Regions from separate parts of the Homo sapiens genome. Here region 1 is linked to region 2. Evidence: fine-mapped expression QTL. A gene starts in region 2. The other region holds a variant in brackets. All regions are shown on one strand. Distances are between the middles of the regions.

Region 1 (5,377 bases), 31 kb before region 2:
AAGGACAGAAACACAGATTTCTGTCTTCTGGGGCACTCTTACGTCCCCAGATCATTCATCTTCCTGTGTACCTGCAGAACCGTCAAGGGTTCAGTGCAGATCTGCTCCTGTGAATCATGGACCTGCAGGCTTCTGGCAATGGAGCACTTCAATCCTATAGAGCCATGTATTTTTCTTCCCTTAACAATAAATTCTATTTGAAGGGTAAAGAGCACAACAAAAAATTTTTTTTTTTTTTTTCCTGCACAGAGAGATCCACTCCATTAACGTTATCTGGAAGTCATTGGGTAAGGTATTTAGACAAAGATAGAGTGCCGGGCGGGCCAATCTTAAATGTCAGATGCTTAACTTTTGGGTTCTTGCTGTTTTCTACCTTTTTCTTTTGGCCAGGTTCTTTAGCTCTAGGACAAGGGTTTAAGTTCCCCACACCTGTCCCCTATGTCAAGAGTGGCAGATGGGAAGAGATAAAGAAGCTTCCTGGAGTTCATGCTCCATTTCCTGCTCTGGGGGGCTCACATTTAAGATCCCACCCACTCTTGAGCCACTTTATTTCCCTTCTTCATGCATGGCAGGTAGGGCTTGGGTTAGAGTTCTGGGAGCAATTTGAAAATTGCTAGTTGATATGGTTAGGCTTTGTGTCCCCAGCCAAATCTCATCTTGAATTGTAATCCCCAGGTGTCAAGGGAGAGACTTGGTGGGAGGCGACTGTATCACCGGGACAGGTCCCCCATGCTGTTCTCATGGCAGTGAGCTCTCAAAAGATCTAATGGTTTTATAAGGCAGGTTTCCCTGCTCTTTCTTGCACTCGCTCATTCACCTGCCACCATGTGAGATGTGCCTGTTTCCCCTCTGCCATGATTGTAAGTTTCCTGAGGCCTCCCCCACCATGCGAAACTGTGAATCGATTAAACCTCTTTCCTTTAGAAATTACCCAGCCTCAGGTAGTATCTTTATAGCAGTGTGAAAACGGACTAATACACTAGTCTAGAGGTGAATTTAGAGCAAGCACCAAGAGATACATGCTGAAATAAATGAGCAACTGAATTAGAAAAACAAGCATAACTTAAGTAAACTTTATTTTCAAAATGCTTCAGGTACAAAAGAAAACAATGGCAAAGTCTAACAATAATTAACAAACCAGCTCTTGAGCGGCAGAGTGCTCCAGGGATGAGAGGGGCTGGGGATGGAAAGGTGGTTGGGAGACACAACATTTTTCTAGCTTCAGAAAGTCAGGGAGCCCAGATCACAGCCTGAACTTCATGGTATTGGTTACAGATTCTTTACAAAGGTGTTTACCTGTGGGAAGGAGAAAATCAGAAGTTTAATTTCACATTTTTAACAGAATTTTCAATGGTCCACCCCCAATGCATATGCAGCCAAGCCCATGAGGTTTTTGTGAGGAAAGGAAAATAATAGGCATGGAGAAGAAATGTGGGCAGCCCAGGGTCATATAGCATCAAGTGGCAGAGCTGGGAATAGAATCCAGTAGTCTCATTTCCCTAGTTTTAGGATGCCTTAGAGAAGAAAGTCAGCTGGCAAGCACATGTTACAAGTCAATTATTTAACAATTATTAGTCCAGCATACTTTAGAGAATAGGGATATTTGTAATCTGCACAAGATTCCATAGGCCTTGGAGTGTGAAATGCAATGTGAGATGCAAAGCACAAGACCCATGATATTGAACTTTGAAGCAAAGGCCAGAAAGATAAAAGTACAACAAAGGAAACCACCAGAAAACAGGAGTTAAAGTCCTTCCCACCTCTCTCATGAGGTCTTCTTGTTTGGTTACTTCCTCAGAAAAATCATCATTGACATCCAACACCAGCACTGGAATGTTCATCAGAGCCTCAAAGTGGAGCCTATAAGAAGCGTGAACGTTTGGGGGACAGAAAAAAAGAAATGTAACTTGAGTCAAGTTTCACATACTCGCCAAGTCTTACTCAGAGAACAGATCTAAATTCAACATGACTTTTCAAAGAAACTGCATGTAAACTGCATTTAAAAAAACAAATTCAATAAAGTTGGCCGGAAACAGAAAGGTTGAGGTTTCTCTTCATTCTTGAGAGTGATACTAACAAACAGTCAGAGCACCAAACATTTTAAGTGGACAACAAACCAAGCCTAAAGGGAGGACAGGCAGAAACCAGGAATGCCAACTTAGTAATACTGACAATTTCTCTAACATTTTCAGCCCTTCATGCTGAGCCAACTATCACCATCAATCACAATGTTCAGTCTAGGGAAATGTTAAGAAACAAAGAAAAAGCTGGAGAAATACAATCTAATAAAAAGGCCCTTGGAATGTAAAGATTATATTCAATATTAAACTTCTTCTGGGCATCTCACTCTGTCGCCCAGGCTGGAGTACAGTGGTGCGATCTCGGCTCACCGCAATCTTTGCCTCCCAGGTTCAAGCGATTCTCCTGCCTCAGCCTCCCGAGTAGCTGGTATTACAGGCGCCTGACACCACACCTGGCTAATTTTTCTATTTTTAGTAGAGACAGGGTTTCACCATGTTGGCCAGGCTGGTCTTGAATCCTGACCTCAGGTGACTGCCT[C/T]AGCCTCCCAAAGTGCTGGGATTACAGGCGTGAGCCACGGTGTCCAGCAATATTAAACTTCTGAGTTGGAAAATGCTTGACATTTCCAACCATTTCCAGTATATTCTGAACCTTCCTACAGGGGGCTGCATGCTGAACTTGTTTTTAACAACTGGCTGTTGGGAGCCAGGTCTCTGTCTCTGATACATTCTTTTCTCCCCACTTACTTCGTTGTCTTGTGAATAAGCCAGGCTTCGTGTTGGCCATGCAGCTGCTCTAGATAGGCCAGCTCAATTCCTTTCTCCTCCTCCCTGGCCCTCTGGTACAGTCTCTTCAAACAAACCTAAAAGACAGTCCCCAAGCCCTGATGAGCTCTTTGCTGTTTTGGCTGCTACAATGCAGTCTTCGGGGGCTCTGAGGCCCACCCATAATGTCTATCTTGGGCATTACAAGCCATGCCTTTGCTTCTGCTGTCTTGTTTTCTTATGCAATCAGAGGATCTACACCATTCTTTTCCCATCTCCACCTTAAACCTGCTCTTCCTCTGAAGTATCCTAAGTCGGTTAATGATGAACATCATCCATCCAGTCATCCAAGCCACGGACCTGGAATTTTCCTTGTTTTTCCTTCTCCCTACTATATCTGGGAAGTCACTCAATTCTCTTTCATCTCTCTAGAATGTTCTCTCCTTGCCTCTCCTCTCACCTCTGCCCTGGTCGGGTCCTCTTTACTTCTTACCTGGATTATGGCAAGAGCCTTCTGGTTCTGCCTCCTGGAGGCAGGGAAGCATATGGACAGAGTACAGGCCTTAAGGTCAGAAAGTCCAGGAGTAAATTCCTGCCTTCATAAGGTACTAGCAGTGCAGTCCTTGTGGGCTTCTATTTCCTCATTGTCTACCCATCCACAGGTCACTGAGGTAAGTTGTATTGAGCTCCTGGCAAAAGCTGTTCCCTCCTTCCAGTTTTTCCCCTTCACTCCACCCGTCTGTAGTACGGCAATATAATGACATGACTTTCCTTGCTGAAAATACTTCACAGGCTCTTTACCGCCTACAGCCATAGCCCCAGGGTTCAAAGCAGTATGTATGAATAGCATTGCATTTATAAAATGTTAGGTAATTTGAAATATCTCTTTCATGTCATACCAAACATTCACTCAGGAATAGAATGTAAAATTTGCACAGGTCAAAGATAAAACAAAGAAGTGGAAAAACAAGTGAGGCTTGAGACTAACTCTCCTCCCCCGCTGCTTTGCAGAGTGTACATAATTCTATTCTGCATTCATCTGGTAGTGAAGTTTGATGCACACTGGCTCAGAAAATGACATCTTCTTTACCTGTCACACAAAGCTACCCCTCCTACTTCTCAACTGCCTTAGCTCTTCCCCTGGACTCACTGCTTTAGCCAGATTTGACCTCTTTCCTGGGGAACAGGCCAGGCTCTTTCACACCTCAAAATTTTTGCTCCAAATGTTTGTTTTGACTGAATTATCCTCAGTCCTCTCTCTGCTTGACAAACATTTCATTATTCAATATCATCTGTCCTGGAAGAACAGATGGATTAACCCACTGATTTAGGACTTCACTCTTTTTTTTTGAGACAGAGTCTTGCTCTGTTGCCAGGCTGGAGTGCAGTGGCGCGATCTCAGCTCACTGCAACCTCTGCCTCCCAGGTTCAAGTGATTCTCTTGCCTCAGCCTCTCAAGTAGCTGGGACTACAGGCGGGAGCCACCACGCCCAACTAATTTTTTGTATTTTTAGTAGAGATGGGGTTTCACCATGTCGGCCAGGATGGTCTCGATCTCTTGGCATCGTGATCTGCCCGCTTCGGCTTCTCAAAATGCTGGGATTACAGGCGTGAGCCACCGTGCCCGGCCAGGACTTCCCTCTTTCAATAACTTACTTAAGAAATGAAAACTTAATTTCCAAATGTAGTACACAATAATCCCAAAGACTTGGGAGTCTTTGCTGTTTCCCTCTTATCTTACCTTTTCTCTAAGGAAATGAAATTATAGAAACAAATTTTATTAATGATCAAAAGGTATATGCACTTGCAATTATATACTGCCAGACTGCCTCCTTAGAGGTTAACCAATTTATATTCCCACCAGAAAGGTAGCTTTAGGATTTCTAAGCATAGCAAAGCTATCATCTCATTTTCCTTTCTGAGAAAAAAAATGTTGTCTGTTTCGTGAAAATAAATTTTTTTAAAATGTGACTTTATGTTTCCAAGTACACACACAAAGGCAGAACAATTCTTTTTAGGAAAGCTATTTATAATTATTCATTCACTGCTTGCAGACAAACCTTGACACTAACATTGATCTATTAAAATAAGCTAACATATTTCTATTTACTATTAATTTCCTTAACAGAGCAAATGGATTTCCCTGAGAAGTCTAAGTCTTAACTGGTGGCAGTATTGAGTGGGGAAAAAAAAAGAGGTCGAAGTAAACTCCTACTATGAGCATTTGGCATAACTCTTGCTTTACTGATATCGCTATAACAAATTCTATTTAAAAAAATCCCGTGCAAACAGTGCTTTAGTCTGACCCCTCTTCATCTCAGTCCTCATGAGGAAGACACACCTGAATGTGAACAGGAAAGATAGTGTAGCTACAAGTGGCGAGGGAGAGACCCTTTACTGGTCTTCTTAACCTGTCCCACCCAGGAAGAAGAACTGCTGCTCTGCTTGCTTGGAGTCAGAAACAGAAAATGGAAAGTGACTGCTAGTGGGTCTTTTCACTATGCCTCTCAAGCCCAAACCCAGGTGCCATTTGTCCCATGCACCTCCTGCATGCTGTCCCCATGCTGTGCCAGTCCCAGGTAGGGCCTGGCTTT
Region 2 (5,377 bases):
ACATATCCAATTACCTATTCAACACCTCTACTTGGATATTAATAGGCATGTAAAAACCTAACATGCTTAAAACCAAGGCTCACTTCTGTAATCCCAGCACTTTGGGAAGCCAAGGCAGGAGGATCAATTGAGCCCAGGAGATCAAGACCAGCCTGGAAAATATAGTGAGACCCTGTCTCTACAAAAAATATACAAAATTAGCCACGCATAGTGGCAAACACCTGTGGATCCAGCTACTCAAGAGGCTAAGGTGGGAGGATGGCTTGAGCCTGGGAGGCAGGCTGCAGTGAGATGCAATTGCATCACTGTATTCTAGCCTGGCAACAGGGCAAGACCACACCAAAGGAGGGGAAGCGAGGGGAGGGGAGGAAGAAGGAGAGGAGGAAATAAAAGAAAATCAGGAGTCTATCTTTCAAGTACTCAAGTCAAAATAATTGGAGTCATCATTGGCCCCTCTCTTTACCTTACACTCTGCATTCAACCTGTCACCAAATCCAATTGGCCCTATCTTAAAATATAACTAGAACCCAATCATTTCTCACCACTTCCACTGTTAAATTTTACTTAAAATGTAACTCAATTTTTGTTAACGTATAACTAGAATCCAATCACGTCTCACCACTTTCACTTTTCACAATACTATAATTATTGCAATACCACTTAACACTCTTCACTTTCAATGTTATCAGCCACAGTGATCTTTTTATAATCTAAGTAAAACTGTCACTTGACTCCTCAAACCTTCCAATGGCTACCCATCTCGGTAAGATTAAAAACCCATGATAAGGCCTATAAAATCTGGCCACCCCTTGGGCTTTTGCCCTAATTTCCCTCCCATCCTTGCTCACTCGACTTCAGTCACAACGATTTCCCTCCTATTCCCCGAACACACTTTCCACCTCAGGGCCTTTCCAATTGCTCTTCACTCTGCCTAGAAGATTCTTCTCCCAGGTATCCACGTGATTTGCTCCCTCATCTTCAGTTTTTTGCTCAGATGTCACCTTCTCAGTGAGGCCTTGCTTATTTTATTTAAAATGACAACTTCGGCCAGGTGCAGTGGCTAACGCCTATAATCCCAGCACTTTGGGAGGCCGAGGCAGGCGGATCACCTGAGGTTAGGAGTTTGAGACCAGCCTGGCCAACATGGTGAAACCCTGTCTCTACTAACAAAACAAAAATTAACTGGGTGTGGTGGCGGGTGCCCCTAATCCCAGCTATTCGGGAGGCTGAGGCAGGAGAATCGCTTGAACCAGGGAGGCAGAGGTTGCAGTGAGTCGAGATCGTGTCATTGCACTCCAGCCTGGGTAACAAGAGCAAAACTCCATCTCAAATAAAATAAAATAAAAACTTCCCTCAATTCTTCATCCCTAATTTTTCTCCATCATACTTATTACTCTCTAACATATTGTTCACCTTGCTTAATTTATGTTGTTTATTGTCCATCTCTCCCTACTTGAGTTCCATGAGAGCAGAGATTTTTATTTGTTCTATTCACAGCTGTATTCTCCAGGCCAAGAACAGTGCTGGCATATGGAAGTGGCTCAAAAGGTGATTTGTTGAATGAATAAAAAAAGAAATTCTCAGTTTGCTGCTACGTCTTCAGTACTCAACACTTGCTAAGCCCCTTTTAGGGGCTCAGTGACTTGGTAGATAAAAGTATCAAGTCAGAATTTATTAATATTAAATCGAAATGCTTTGCCTTCATTTTGCTTTCTGACTACTTTTTATTCAAGATACTGGATCTCACTCTTTTAACAAAATAATTTTTAATTTAATACATGTTTTTAAGTTTAAAAAGTGAGGTTCTTCTAAGAAAAGCCTTAAGAAATTATTATGCAACTAGCACAGGCACAGGGCAAAAATTGTGAATGTGGTATTTGAACGACTGAAATTTAGGAACTCTCTTCGAATAGGGTTGCCAGATAAAATACAGGACACAGTTAAATTTGAACTTTCAATGAGTGATTTCGTTGTTGTTTTGCTGTAAGGATGTCCCAAATATTGCATTGGACACACACTAAAAATTATTCGTTATCTTAAATTCTATTTTAACTGGATATTATTTTTAATTTCTGCTAAATATGGCAACCCTATCTAGGAGAACAAATAAACTGCACCCGCTTGTCGCTTCAATTTCGATCTATTACAAACAGCTAATACAATTCTTGTCCTATCCACTAACTGCGTGGCTTTTATGCCCCAACAAATATGTTCCTGTGGGCGGGTACTGAGGCCCGATATCCTAAAAACAAGGAGGCAAAGATACACAGTGCACTTTGCGAGGGGAAAGGCTCTCCTCGCAGCCCAGAAAAAGAGGCCGGCCGCATCAGACGCAGGCCATTCCGGGCCCAGCTCCTTTCCCAGCCTCTGTCGCCTGCGTGGCGGAGGCCAAGGCTTGGCAGCCGCTTTCCGGCCCTTACCAATGTTGCCTTCGATGGAGAGCCTTCGGGGCCCGCGCCCCGCGTGCAGGCCTCTGGAGGAGGAAACGCCCTCGAGTGGGCTCTTGGCCATGGAACTGAAGGGTGCTCGAAGCCGACTTAGAAAGAGGCGGCCCGCGGCCATCCCACCCACGATTCACACAGCGATCACTTCCGCCGAGAGCACTTCCGCCCTAGGTATCGCTGCTCACTCGCTCCAGCGCACCGTTGACGTAAGGAGATCGTCAGACAGGAAGTGGGTGGGGTTGAACATGCGGCGGGGTGCGCCCAAGAGACCGCTCCGCTATCGCGATGTTTGTAAAGAAGCGTTGAGTGAAGGAAGTTTTGCAACGGTGCAGAATTTGATAGTAAAAGGAGTTGCGGTGCGAGTGGTTTTTGTTCATTGGACAAATAACATTTTAAAAGACGTAATTCCACAATCCAACCACTTCATTTTTGTATAACTTTAAAATAAATTTTATAACTGAAGACAAAATTAAAAATAGAAATTGTAATTTTAAGAGGGGATTTCCCCCCCCCCAGGTGCTTGTTGTCTGGTTTTTATTTTAATATCGGAAGAAAATGGAAGTTTTAAAGTAGGAAAATGACTCAATCTGATGATTTACACAAATTTAACTTTTTCCTATTCCCTGTAATTCCCCTGCACAATGCTGGCATATTATTGACTAAATTAACAAATTAGATAATCAGTTACACCCCATCTCTTAGTTTGTGTCTTGAATAAGTAAATAAATGTTCGGTCAATCGATTTGCATTATACCCAAAAATCCCTTCAGGATAAGGTGGTGGTGGCTCAGGTATGTGACTGGAAATTGTTTAAACCTGGTAGGCTGGGTTCTTGGACGTAAGCAATGGCGAGTAGAGACTTGTATAAAACCTGAGTCCTGCTGTCGGTGAAGTGTGCTCTGCAGGAGGGCAGGGACCTAAGCTGCTGCCACAGGTGAAGCCGGACTGCCACACCCCGTCGTCATAACAACCTCAGAAGTAATGATTTACAAAATGTTGTCAAATGGTGCTTCCAGTTCCAATCGCTTAAATCACCAACAGTCAAAACCAGGAGTCAACAGGCCAAACCGGCCTTCAGGCAGCGCTCTTAGGTGTGGCAGGTTTTAGAAGACAAGGATCTGATTGCAAGGGGGCTGGGGAGGGGCCGGGGGCTGGGATACCTGTCTTGAAGCTGTTCCCATAAAAAGCACGGGACCTTTTTCTTATGTTGATGTATATATAGGATGGCTGAGGTCATGTTTATATATTAAGAACTTTTTTTTTAATCGAATTTTTTAAGGATAACCAGGGTGGGGCGTTAATGGCTACTGGAGCGGCTAAAGTCCTACCCATTCCCATCTCCACTCCAGCAGCCACTTCTGTTAAAACAAAACAAAACAAAACAAAACAAAACAAAAAACAAAAAAAAAACTGCTTACATTTCTTTACCTATGTAAACTCAGACTTGGAAAATATTCATCCAAAAAAGCTTGAGAGGCTCTCTGCCTCGCCAGGATCTTGCTGCCTCAGGGGTGTTGTGAAAGTTAAATGAGGAAGTTGTCTGCAGGCAGGCATTAATCTCCTAAAAGCTACGAGGCAGGAAAATAGGGTCTGGAGACAGGGAACCTAAGGCCGATTTAGGCTGACTTCCTAGAACTAAATCAAAAGGAAAACCCCAACTTTCTAGCCCAAGTAACAAAAGGACCAGAAGCTAATCCCTCTTCTGGGTGGCAGATAAAAAATTGAAAGTACCTCTGACTGGTCCCCGCGGGCAATCAGTCAGGCTGGTGGCAGGCCAAGTCTTTAGTTGCATGGGGTATAACTTCATAACTTTACTTCAGCCTCTGATTGGTCCCCTCCTGCAACCAATCAGACTGATCGCTGGCCACTACTTCATTTACATAGGGTGTACACCAGGTAACCAATGGGAAACCTCTAGAAGGTATTTAAACCCCAGAAAATTCTGTAATTGCTGCTTGCTTGGGCCCTTCCTACCGCAAGGAGTGTTCTTTGATGTACAATAAATCTGTGCTTTTGTTGCTTCATTGTTTCCTTGCTTTGTACGTTTTGTCCAATTCTTTGTTCAAAATGTCAAGAACCTGGGCACCCTCCACCAGTAACAGAGCTCCTAAAAATTATTTTTAAAAATTTTATGGTGAAGTGGCCTGGCGCGGTGGCTCACGCCTGTAATCCCAGCACTTTGGGAGGCTGACGAGGGCGGATCACGAGGTCAGGAGATCAAGACCATCCTGGCTAACATGGTGAAACCCTGTCTCTACTAAAGAGAGAGAAAAAAAAAAAAGCGGAGTGTGGTGGTGGGCTCCTGTAGTCCCAGCTACTCAGGAGGCTGAGGCAGGAGAATGGCCTGAACCGGGGAGGCGGAGCTTGCAGTGAGCCGAGATCGCGCCACTGTGCTCCAGCCTGGGCGACAGAGCGAGACTCCGTCTCAAAAAAAAAAAAAAAAAAAAATTATGGTAAAGCATAGTATGTAGTGAGGAAAAGAGGATGTGTTGTGCAGTGAGGAAAAGAGGATGTGTTGTAAGTGTACAGTTCAATGAAGTTTTCACAAATGGAATGACTGTTACCTGGATTCAGATCAAGAAACAGCATTATCCGCATCTCCAGAATCCCCCATATTCGTTGCCAGTTACTATCCCTCAAAGATAACCATTAGCCTGACTTCAACAGTAGAGATTAGTTTTGCGTTTTCTTTATATAAATGGAATTATATAGTAAATACTTCTTTTATTTAACATATCTGTGAGATTCATCCAGGTTGAATGTATTAGTTGTAGTTCACTCATTCTCATTGCTGTATAGTATTCCACAATGTCACTATACCACAATGTACTCGGAAGTTTCTAGATTTGAGCCATAATGAATAGTGTTGCGGTAAATATTCTTGTACATGTCTTTTGGTAAAAAGAAGTATGCATTTCTCTTGGGTGTATAAG

What was found.
Region 1: its variant is fine-mapped to the expression of DGUOK in monocytes (TOPMed, PIP 0.95).

Annotation. Positions count from the first base shown.
Region 1 is chr2:73,954,629-73,960,005 of GRCh38, reverse strand. DGUOK (deoxyguanosine kinase) reads right to left here. Exons shown (of 7, transcript NM_080916.3): 5 at 2,766-2,881; 6 at 1,761-1,860; 7 at 1,060-1,296. The coding sequence ends at 1,270. DGUOK-AS1 (DGUOK antisense RNA 1) reads left to right here. Exons shown (of 2, transcript NR_104030.1): 2 at 1,799-2,039. Among named protein-coding and RNA genes, the nearest start is that of DGUOK-AS1, 24 kb to the left of the region's middle. The variant C/T (reference allele first, on the strand shown) is at 2,560.
Region 2 is chr2:73,924,096-73,929,472 of GRCh38, reverse strand. It overlaps DGUOK (deoxyguanosine kinase), which reads right to left and starts at 2,593. Exons shown (of 7, transcript NM_080916.3): 1 at 2,421-2,593. The coding sequence starts at 2,562. RefSeq lists an enhancer at 2,292-2,561.